Linked DNA regions of Homo sapiens. The protein of the gene in region 1 interacts with the protein of each later gene in a pairwise test. Each region holds a gene or a part of one and is shown on either strand. Other genes may lie near its edges.

What was found. The genes of interacting proteins can lie anywhere in the genome.
Region 2: the proteins of VWC2L (region 1) and OTX1 interact in binary tests that used the Homo sapiens proteins (3 or more experiments, as listed by UniProt).

Annotation. Positions count from the first base shown.
Region 1 is NC_000002.12:214,575,054-214,579,503, reverse strand, and holds the end of VWC2L (von Willebrand factor C domain-containing protein 2-like isoform 1 precursor), read right to left. Parts: intron 3,833-4,450; coding exon 3,684-3,832; 3' UTR 528-3,683; downstream 1-527.
Region 2 is NC_000002.12:63,046,971-63,053,852, reverse strand, and holds the start of OTX1 (homeobox protein OTX1), read right to left. Parts: upstream 3,024-6,882; 5' UTR 2,956-3,023; intron 2,605-2,955; 5' UTR 2,536-2,604; intron 974-2,535; 5' UTR 863-973; coding exon 766-862; intron 1-765. UniProt on the Homo sapiens protein: Probably plays a role in the development of the brain and the sense organs. Can bind to the BCD target sequence (BTS): 5'-TCTAATCCC-3'.

The DNA.
Region 1 (4,450 bases):
TTCTTTATATATGTTTGAAAACTTTTATAATAAAGAATTCCTGCTTTGCTACTTACTAGCCTGTGACTTTGGGCAAAGCATTTAGCCTCTTTATATTCCGGTTTCCTCAAGAACAAAGCAGAAATGACAAGAGTTCCTCTCTCATAGGTGTGCTGTGTGGATTGAATACAATCCTGTGGGCACAGAGCTTAGTACGGGGCCTGGCTCAGAGCCAGCACTCAATAATTATAGATTATCGTTAGCATAGTATATGGATCTGGGGTCAGGAAAAGACTTTTCCTATCACTTACCCTGTCACTGCTGGCTTATTTGAGCCTCCTCTCGGATCCCCAAGTCAGCAATGCCTTGCGTTATGAAAAATGAAAATGTGTGCAGGCAAATGCAAAAGCTAATGCTTCATTCTAATTGAATACAGCTCTAATGACACATGTACTTTCAAATGATAGAAGTAACCGAGAATTAGTCATTAAATAATGAGGGTAGGGAGAAAGGAGAAATGTGGGAAGGAAAATATACCACAAACAATGTTTGCTGGTTAACACACTTTATATTTAACAAAATAATTTTTTAATAATATATTCTTTTACACATCAAATATTGTTGCTAGAATCCCCTTTTTACAGTTTAGTGTTTAGGTTTTTTTTTTTTCTCACTAGTTTTCAGGCACGCCATTTTTCAAAGATTTTAGAAACTGAATCGTTTTTAATAGGCATCAGCTGACAAACAAGATGTTGATCCCTTATTTTAACATAGCTGTTGTTAAAGCCGAGAACCAAAGGCGGAGGAGAAATAGGAGTACAGAGATGACAGTGTGGCTGCAAACAAAGACTTCACAAGAAACAAACAACAGATGAGACCAGAGCTCTGTTGTTCAGAGTCTGGAAAGAATTTCTCAATGACCTGGGTAGAAGGAAGTTGTAAAATGTTTATCAGTTTATGAGAAATTGTCACAGTATAGGTTCATCTCTCCCTAAAGGGGGAAAAATGTCAGTGCTACAAAATCTTAAAGGAAACAGCCTGCAGTGAAACTTTGAGAAAAAGAAAATCCAACAACAACAAAACCAACCATAAAAATCCCTCTCTCTAGCTGGTTATCAGAGGCCACAGAACAGCCTGCTTTCTGCAAACTCTCTGAAGAGAGATCCTTAATGGATGTCCCATTCAATTCTAGTAAATTCTTGCTGTGACTCTCGCTGTGCCAATGCTTTGATGCAAAATTTCTGCACTTCAGCTTCCCAGTTGTACTCTCTTTCTGTTTTCTAAAAAAGGACATAGTAACTCCTTAATAATAGATAAGGTACTATGCTGCATGGCTCTATTAATGATATTTTCTGAGTTTCAAACCTTATTCCTGTCATTTATTATTATTATTTCTTTCCAAGAGTGTGGATTTTTGAAGTTGGCAACAGGCAACCTCGGGGCAAAGAAAGCTCTATAATACATCTCTGTCTAGACATAAGCTAAAGTGTGGAATTCCTTTACTTTTGAGTGCAGACATAAATCATGCAGCATTGCTCATGAATGATTCATGACTGTCTATATGATGTATCCATGGTGGCAAATGAAAGGCACCAACCTTGCTGCAAATTGGTGTTCTAAGGGAAGGTGGCTTGATGCTCTTCCTCGGGATGGTGCCGGCATGGCTATTTGTATCATAACGCAAGCACAGTGTGCATAAGAATGTCAGGTCTGACTCGTCAGCACGTTAATTTTGGAAATGACAACTCTTTCTTGATGACAGCAGATGCTTCCAGGGAGGAGAGGCTGACAATTTTAAATGAAAAACCAGTTGACAAGACTCAAAAAAATATGTTTCCTGAGGGTGGGCCTATAGCATTAGAAGCCTCACTCTCTATGGAGAAGACTGACCCCTTGGAAATGCTGACTGTGTATGTCCCATAGGGATCAGAAGCTCACAAAAGCCACAGGTGCTGCTAGAGCTTGCCTACTGTGTCCCCTGCCAGAAACCACTCTATACTGATTATTCTAGACCACTGGTTCTCAACGAGGTGAAATTAGGCCCCTCACTCCCACTCCTTAGGGACATTAGGCAATGTCTGGAGAAATTTGGTTGTCACCAGTTGCTGGGATGTTGCTAGTGGATAGAGGCCAGTGATGGTGCTAAACATCCTAAAAGCACACAGGACAGCCCCCACCAACGAATAATGATCTGGCCCCAAATGTCAATCCTACTAAGATTGAGACACCTTGCTCTAGAATATGGCTCTCCACAGGAGCTATGGCAAAGCCCAGGTTGGGGGAGCAGAAAAAGAAAGAACATTGATAATAAAGACAACTGTAAAGTCTCTTCAAGGACCCTATCAGATCTGTGCCAGGGTTTTTAGGGCAGGAGCATGGAATAAGCGACTAACTATGCCATGTGGTTTCAGAATTGTTAATTTTGCACTTGAATCGAGGTGGCATCAGATACCCTGTGTGTTTTGTTTTTTCTGTTACTATACTAGCAGCATTACCAGGGCAACCTAGAGACTCTTCAAAGGTTCACTTTAATTTTTCAGTATCTAATATATACATTTTAAAAAATGTTCAACAAATGGAATTGTATTGTGCAAGACTCACTCTACCCTAATCTTTAATTTAAATCAGCACTTGAGGTGGAAAGGGTGTCCTGAATCTGTGTTTCAGACATAGGGCTGAGTGGTTGTTACTACAACATGGCAAACACAGTCCCGAACCACAAAAACTGCCAGTGTGTACTACTGACTTTTAGCCAAATCTGAACTCAAAAGCCAGAGATGTTCATAAGGATTTGGATTCACAGTGGGTTTTCTCACCCTGGTTCTGGTATTTATATTGCCTGATGACAGTGAGTTTAGAGTGTGTTTAGCTACAAACCAAACTCAAATTTCACATCATGAAAAAGTCTGATGATTAATGCTACAATTTTAAAGATCTGTCTCTCTTTGGATTCTTTAGTTGAGCTTATGGTGTTCTTTACGTAATAGATTTTGATTGGCAGTTTCGAGGTTTTCCATATGAAATGTGTGGTTTGTAAGAATTAAATTGTGAGCCCCCACGTAATGGACAAAGTACTTGTTCCCAACCCTGTCCAGCAATAGGCCCGTCTATGTGCCCACCCCTCTTTCCTTAGTCTACAGGGCATGATTCACCCTAGGGGAGCAATTGACTGGATGCTCTTGTGTTTCCCAGCTCGGGAAAGATATTTCCCCTGACATTCCTTTACCAAACTTTTTTTTTTACACAACTCAAAACTTTACTGTGCAGTCAAATTTAGCCCCTTAGACTCTAAAAGTGAAAAAACAAATATTACAGGAGAACAATGCCATGTACAATGTACAGAAGAGTAAAAATGAAGTAAACCAGGGGACAGTGAGCTGGTAGGTCAGAGGCATTACCAGGGAAGGAGCCTGTGCAAGGCTATTTCTTTCTTTTTGTTCCAGCAATCCAGTCGTCAAGTCACCATCAAGCATTGGTAAATACAAAAGCGATTTAGATAGCTATATACTATATATATTTTATATAGCAAGAGAGAAAGAAATTTCCTCTTAGGAAAATATTCACTTTTGTCAACCCTAGAAAGTTTTGCTGGTGACCCTGTTGTAGCTGGCAGGAGTTTGTTTGTTTTGTTTTGTGTTAAACATGTGCAGTGTTGAAGCCATAGCATCCTTTCCTAAGAACTCATCATTGGGTGGAAGTTTGTCCTACACAGTCTGCTTGCCTTGGCATTCACGTTTCGAACACTGAGCAGGCTTCCACCAGTCCCCGTTGTGACAATGACAGATGTTACATTCGTCCACTTTCACTTCAATGCCAGCTGGAATTATCGTCGTTCCTGCAAAGCAGTTTGGACCTGAAACACACAGATACATTGATTAGTTGATTAAATCTGAGAGGCTCCCTTTCTCCCCACCATCCAAACCCAAGCCCCAAAGCCATAAATGAGTAAGTCAGACTACTCTACTGACTTATCATCAAGGAATTTTCTAGCCATCTCCTTGAAATTCAAAGTTGCAACTCTGCTACCTTTTGCACACAGCTCATATTTCCCGTGTATATTGTGAACTTAAATAAAAAGAGACAATCTTCAAAAAAAATCGTATTTTCTGCTTCCTGAGTACATGCAGTTTTCTAAATTTAGGTTCTGTGGGTTAAACTGTATTTGTTTTGTCCTCTGAGGTGTAAAGGCTGCCAGCGTATGCTCTGAAACACGAGGGAGGGCTGACATGGTCGGCCTCAGATGGTGGCACCCTTGGCCTGTCCTTCTCTTTTCCTGTGGTGGGTATGAGACAATAAACTCGCTCGTTCCCCAGTTTCAGTGCCTCCCCAGCCCAGTTCCTGGAATCCCCAGCTTGTTTCTTGATAACAATGAATAATTCATGACCAGATGATTTATTCATGTCCTGAACAAGCTTTGTTAGAGGTTCATTTGATTTTTATAAATGGACTTCCTTTAATCTGCTGGCTCTTT
Region 2 (6,882 bases), about 150 Mb from region 1:
GCCAGTGTCTCCAAGATTCGAGGGCTGCCCCTCTCTATGCCTCTCAGAGGTTAAAAAAGTTAAGAGAAGTCTACAATCTCCCTTCTTCTACATCCCCTCTCCCCTGCACACACACACGCACACGCACACACACGCACACACACACTCTGGATGGGGGACAGGGAGTGGGGAAGAGGTAGGCAGAAACACGACCTGAAAAACACTTTCGGAGAAAATAAATGAGGTAAAGGAGCGGGAGCTAAAAAAGAAACCCCGGCTTTGGCTCAAGTCGTCCTCTACAGCAGCGCAAAAATGGGTGCAGGACATCGATTTAGAGGACAATTTAATTAGGGAGGAAGAATACTCCTTCAGTGCAGCCTGCCGCTTCGCATAAGGAAAGTTTGGCTCTTTCTGTCAGGGCCTAACGAGTGTCCAGATTACACATTCCATGTTGGGGAAAAAGGAAAAATACTAGCCGCCCCTGGGTAGCGAATCCGCAAGTAAATGAGCTCTGCGCTGGCGGTGGGACCACAACCGGAGAAAGGTTGCCGGTGATCCGGCCGGGAAGGCGCATATTGCGCGTTTTCTCAGCCCTGGCCACCTCACACGCCCACGACTCTGCCCCATGCGCCGGCAGTGGGCCCTGTATTGTAAACAGACAGTGGGCCCTGTGTTGCAGCCGGCTCCCTGGGCCTGCTCAGCAACAAAGCTTGCACTCAAATCCAACAGTCTGGGGGTCCCCAACATTTGAGAGGCTGAGGCAGGGTCGGGAGGGCTGGTGCTCACCCGGATAGCCCACGGATGGGTGCAGGAGGTCCATGGCGGGCCCGGCCAGGCCCAGCCCGTTCATGCCGTATGGGGGTTGTTTGAGGTAAGACATCATGCTAACAGCTGGGTGGAGGCGCCCCGACGGATCCAGGGGGCCCGGGGCCAGGAGCGGTGCAGGGCTCCCACCACGCAGTCCTTCAGGGTCTGATGCGTCTGGGGGCCTGGCCTATGAAGACACGAGACACACGGAAACCGTCAATCGGAGCCACTTGGCTGCCAAGTCTTGCCCCGGGATAGACAGGGAAGGCAGGTTACAGAACTGCGCAGGGTGGTCAACTGGGATCCACAAGGCCTTAGCCCAGAAACCACAGTTACTTTGAAAAGTAAAGTTTTCTGGGTCGTCTGGCTCTAGGGTTGGAATGAGCCAAAGACACTGGTAGGGAGTCCATAGGAGTAAGGAGAAGTTAAAAGCAGGGCCAGGCTGGGGAGGTCAGAGCCAGAACCGCGGAGTGTACAAGCTCCCAAGTCCAGGCAAAATTCTGAATCCGGCAGAAGCCAGCTTCATGTTGCACAAGCAAAGGTTCACTTGGTGCCCGGACGGCAGGCCGCCCAGAGCATGAGGCGTTGTTTCATTTTGTTTCACGTGTTTTTGAAAAGGTAGAGACTACAAAGGGCCAATGTGGAGGGCTAATTGCACTTCTTGTCCACTTAGACACTTGGTTCCTTTAAAGGTCTCCAGGGCTGCGCCCCTGCCCCAGATCCCGCAATCACCACTCCAGCTGACCTCTCTGTGCCCAGCCACTGAAAGATCGCTGACGCGAAATCCCACCGCACCTCAACCGCAGTAACGGGCCCAGGCTTCGCAGAGGGCCAGAGGACGCCGAAGGGGCCACTGTAGAGGGGGGCGACCCCAAGATGCGGCCTGAGGTCGGGAGCGCCTCAGCTGCGGCCAGCGTCCTTCGTTGCCAGCGCGCACCCGGCCTTCTCTCTGCCCAGTCTGGGCTGCGGACCGCAGGGTCCCAGCAGGGGGTGAAGGGTGACTGGCCTAGCACCTCAAAGGGTCTCGGGGATTTGTGAAGCCGGAGGGCAGCAAGTCGCGTGCTGCCATCCTTGTAGCTGAACCCGCGGCCCCAGGACACGGTCGAGAACAGAGAACTAGGCCTCAGCGGCGTAGCCCACGCAGACCCGAGCTGGGAGGTCGAAGCCTCGCCCCCGCCGCTGCCGGGAACCCGGGGTGCCACTCTCAGGGGTCAGGGAGGGGCGCTGGAAACTGGGCCTGGGGCCCTGGGGGGCCATCGCTACACCCCGCTTAGCGGGATCGCTGTGAAGCAAGCCAGGGACTCGGGCTAGGACGTTCAAGGAGAGAAGTTAGAGCTAAAGAAGCTCCCCCCAGCCCCGTTCCCGCCCCCGTCTTCTGGGACCCAAGACCTGGGCTGAGGGAGTCCAGCTTGTAGGAAGGGGACCGGAAGGGAAGCAGCCAGGGCTCTAGGGCCGAAGGAAAATGGGACTCAAAGCTGCGACGGCTTTGCGAAGCTGCAGCGTGAGTTTTCAAAGACTTTCTCCAAACTTAGCACTTCAGCTTGGTTACTTCGGAGGAGGCGGGGGAGGGGGCTGCGGGCCGCGACAGCGCCCCGGGGTCCTCGGCTCACCAAGAGGGGAGCCAGGCCGCTCCCACAGCCCCGACCACCTGCTGGGGACCGGGGAAGCCGGGATCCATTTGAGGAGGGGGAGATAAGGGTAACCAACGCGCTCCCGGAGTCCGGGGTGGCCCCGCGGCTTTCTCCTTACCTGCCCTCAGCTGCCGGGGCCGTTCACCATCTACCTGGATCTCTCACAGAGACCCGCCGGGCAGCCAACCTGCAAAACAGAGCAGCACTGGAATTACCCTGGCGGCTGGTCTAGGACCCCCAGGTTTCTTTCTTTTCCCAACTTCCTTCTTCCCACCTCTATCTTTTTTTTCAATGGCTTTGTGCGTGTCCTTCTGGGTTTCACTTTATTGCACAGACACTTTGTTTGCTAAGCCCCACACGTTCTCAGGACATTGCCTCGCCTGGGATCGCGCCGAGGGGCCGCAAGGGGGGGAATTCGAGGGGCAGAGTTGGGAGGTGGCTCGGCGTTGCCGCGGCACTCCCGGTGCAACGTGGAGGCAGTGGGGACTGGGAAGTCCTGCAGAGTCACTTTGCAAACTAAATAAATCAAGCGATTTACCTTGTCGGAGTGGCTTGTCTTGCTCGGTTGTTTAGGTGATTGGAAATGTAGCCTGATGAAGATTGATCACCTTTCTACTGCCCTCCCCGGGTATGTGAACGCGAGGCGAGTGCGTAACGGGGCTAGGCCGCCAATCGGGGGCCCCGCGCGGGCTGAGTGACAGGGAGCCGGGCAATGGCTGCGCGAGCCGGGGGTTACCTCCGCGCGCCCCCGCCCTCCCCCGCCCCCCACACCCCGCCCTCCCCGCCCTCCCGCCCCGCCCCGGTCGCGCGCTAACTCCGGGACTCGGCTGGCAAAAGCGGCGCAGAGCTAGGCGAGGAAGGCGAGCGGAGAGCCCGAGTCCTGGCCGCGGAGGGGGCCGTGGGTCTCCAGGCCTGCCCTGGGCGCCCCCGCCCTTCTCGCGCTCTCGGCGCTCCGGAGGGAGTGGCAGGGAGGAGGCGAGGTGCTGGAGAACCGGTTCCTTCGCTCTCCCGCGCGCTACAGGGCTCAGCCGCTCGGGTGTGGGCGCCAGGACCCGGGGGCGGCGGGCTGGAGGAGCCCGGGCCTCGGCCCCTCTCCCGGCGCCGCGGGCCCCAGCGTTTTCTTCCCCGGCGCCGCCACCTGAGACCGACGCCGCGGGCTGCTCGTGCCGGCGCAGGCTACTTTGCAGAGCGCGGGAGCAGCTCCGGGCGTGCAGATCTCTCCTCGGCCCCTCCGGACTCTCGCGCCTGGGAAGAGCACCCACTGGGAGGGCGCCGCCACTTACCTGCTTGCTCGTCGGCATCTCCCGGGGTTCCAGGTCCCCACCAAGGGTGTTTGCAAGTCTTAAGCGCTTCTACTGAAACGTTGGAGCCCAGCGTCCTCTTCCCCTCACACGTACACCCTACTTCTTAATTGAAACATTTTGATAGGAAAGTTTCTTTTTCGCTCTTTCTCTCTCTTTCTTAGACTGCCTCTAACAGGGACTTTTTGATGGAAAATGTGGCCACAGACCCCTGCCCTCAACTTTTTTCCACATGCTGCGTAAGGATCCTCCTTGAGGCGATTTCCCCGGATTGTTCGTACGGGCGAAGCCCATTTCCCACCCGAAAAAACTTCCCAAACACGTCTACCTGGGTGGACTTTTAAAAGTGCAAAAAAGAGTTTTCGTTCCAACTCTAAGCTAGGCGAATCTTTTAAATGGCACCTCCTCCTGAAAATTAGGCACTTTATTCCCTTTCGAGGAATTTCTACCCCTTGTTTCTAATCTCCCCCACTCCCCCACCCCGACAGGCGGGGTAAAAAGTTTGCACAGGATTAAGTGTGAGGGCAAGTCAAGGAGCCTCCAGGCGCATCGCAGTGGGGAGCACTCGCGCTGCCCGGGCTGCGGGGTCGGGCGCCGAGAGCGGACCGGGCGCTGGGTGAGGAGGAGGAGAACGAAGGGGGAGCCCGCTGAGTGAAAAGGGGCCGCGGCCGCCGCTCATCAAAGTGCTTCCCCCTCCCCCAAGCGACACTTTCCTTTGGAGTCCGAATAAAATACGGTAACAGAATATGATGGAGGGCACACTGTTTCCTTAACTGCTTCTCAAAGGACCCGGGAGATCTTCTTAGGACCTTTAATAAGGCTTTGGTCGGTTCTTTTGTTGATCTCTCAAAATCAACTCCTTCTAATTGAAGTTGGAGCTGAAAGCGAGCTAATGTTCAAAGAAAGTGGCCGCCAGACCAACGAAATTACATTTTTTTTTTGACGATGAGGGAACATCTAATCAAAGAGGCAGGGGAGGAGGGGTGGGAGTGGGGGCGTACGAAGGAGAAAAGGAGGTTTTACAAGATCCTTCTCTGGTTCACAAAAGTCAGCGACACGGGCGCTTCTCTACAGAACAAAGACACCGCGGCCCATTCACAAAAGGGAGAGAAAGAGAGAAAGCTGAATAAAAGAACGAGAGAAATGGGGAAAAAATGAGAGAGAGAAGGAGGGAGAGAGTGAGTGAGAAAGAAGCTTTAAGAGGAAAAGAAACAGTGCAGAGCGCAGCGCTAACCCAGGCGGGGACACACCTTAGGCTCGCGCAGGCCCCTACCAGGAGTAGCCCGCGAGGCCCGCGGTCAGCCGCCCGCGGCTCGGAGCCACTGTGATCGTGCTGAGGTTTAAAGAAAGCAACGAAATATACCCCTTCCTTAGGTTCCGAGGAAAGGCGCCGGCTGGAGCGCACTAGTTTTGGGGGAAAGAATATGCGGACGTCCCGGGGTGCGCTTCGCCGGCGTCCGCGTCCATAGCCCGGCGCTGCCCTAGTCCCGGCCAGTCCGCTGTGTGCCGGGGTTGGCCCTCCAGTGCCGGGGCGCGTGACCTTGCCCCATTCCTCCACCTTAACTCATTCCTCCCTCCACCAGGCCCTGTTTCGCCTGCAGCCTCAGCACCTGACCTGGGTCCGGCGCAGCGAGGTGGGACGGCAGTGCGCTCTGGAATGTGCCAGCGCGGTCCCCGGGGTACGCCTCGCGGGAGGCCGGCGCTCTCGGTTCCAGATGCTGCCACCATTCTCGGGGAAGTTGGGAGGTATCAAGTAGCACGGATTTTTTTTTTCCTAATTAGAGTATTTATCTAATCCCAAATTGCAGGCGAATTTTCTTAACGCTCAGCCCATAAAACCCCAGGATTAAGAAAAGAAAGAGGAGAGGGGGAGAGGGAGGAGAGTGGAGAGGGAGAGAGACTGGGATGAAAGTTTCTTGAAAGCAGCGCAGAGGATTGAGGCGGCCGTCGCTAGGCAAATGTCCAGGTGGGAGATGCTGGGCCAGAAGCCATGACCGTTCCAGCATCGGCCGCGGTGCGGGAAGGGGAAGTGGGGACACCACTGGAGGAGGTGAAGCCGTCCAGCTCAAGGCCCTCGAGCCGGGAAGGGGCGAGGGAGCTGGGTGTGGAGACAAGGATCCAGCATCCAGGTGACCTCCAGGCCCGGCCAGGCTCTGGAGGACACTTGGGACAAGGGGAGGGCTTTGGATCTGAGGCCGAGGGATCTGACCAGGGGCGGAAGTTCTGCTCCGGCCCGCAGACTGTGCCCAAGCAAGCCCGCTGCCAACGCCCCTGCTCCTCTGCGACCCTCGGACCGATAGTCTCTTTTCCCGCAGCGCGGGCTTTCGAGTTCCGGGTCCTCCGGCGTGCTGGGCTCGTGCCCGTTCTCGGGAGCCAGCGTCTGGGCACCACGCAGCGATGTCCGGATGCAGCGCCCTTGCCGCGGGCCTTACCCCGCCAGGCGCCGGAGTCCACGCTCCACCGCCGCTGAGGGGCGTTCGGGCGCCACCGAGCAGCCCAAATTGAAACCCCGAGAGGCTCGGGACTAAAGCTGAAGGGGCAGGTAGAGGGGCCGCCCGGCGGTCCCAGACCATCCTAGCAAATCTGGGGCGAGGGAAGGGTTGTCAGTTGGCCGATTGGGAGCGGCTTCGGGAGCGAAGGAGCTGCTTTTCGGCGAGGCCCCTCGGGAGTGAAGGTTCCTCGAATCAAGCGTAAACTGGGTGGGTGCTGTTGGCCGCCCAGGCCCCAGGCTGCTTGGGGCGGGCGATTTCTGTCTGCTGAGTTTTCCCGGGGTTAGAACGGGATTCTGAGAGCGTTCCCCAGAGAGCAGCAGCTCTCTCTCTGCTCTCGTGCTCGAATAAAGAGGGCAAATACCGACTTCATTTACTTAAAATAACTTTTCAATAACTTAAAAGAAATGCTCATCATGAAGGAATTCTACCGTAGCAAGTTTTTATCATTTTGAAAGACTGGCAACTGGAGGTGGCTGCATACTTGGAACGAAATTTGTTTGTGTGCACATACATACGATCTACGCTGAAGTATAAATGCTAGTGGACTTTTTTCTCTAAGTTTCTGGACTTGTTGAACAAGCTTTCTTTGTTTGGACACCCCTGTGGGGGAATGAAGGAAACTAGCATAGAATCGCTTTTTTTTTTTTTCTGTAGCCTAGAACTTCTTGTTAA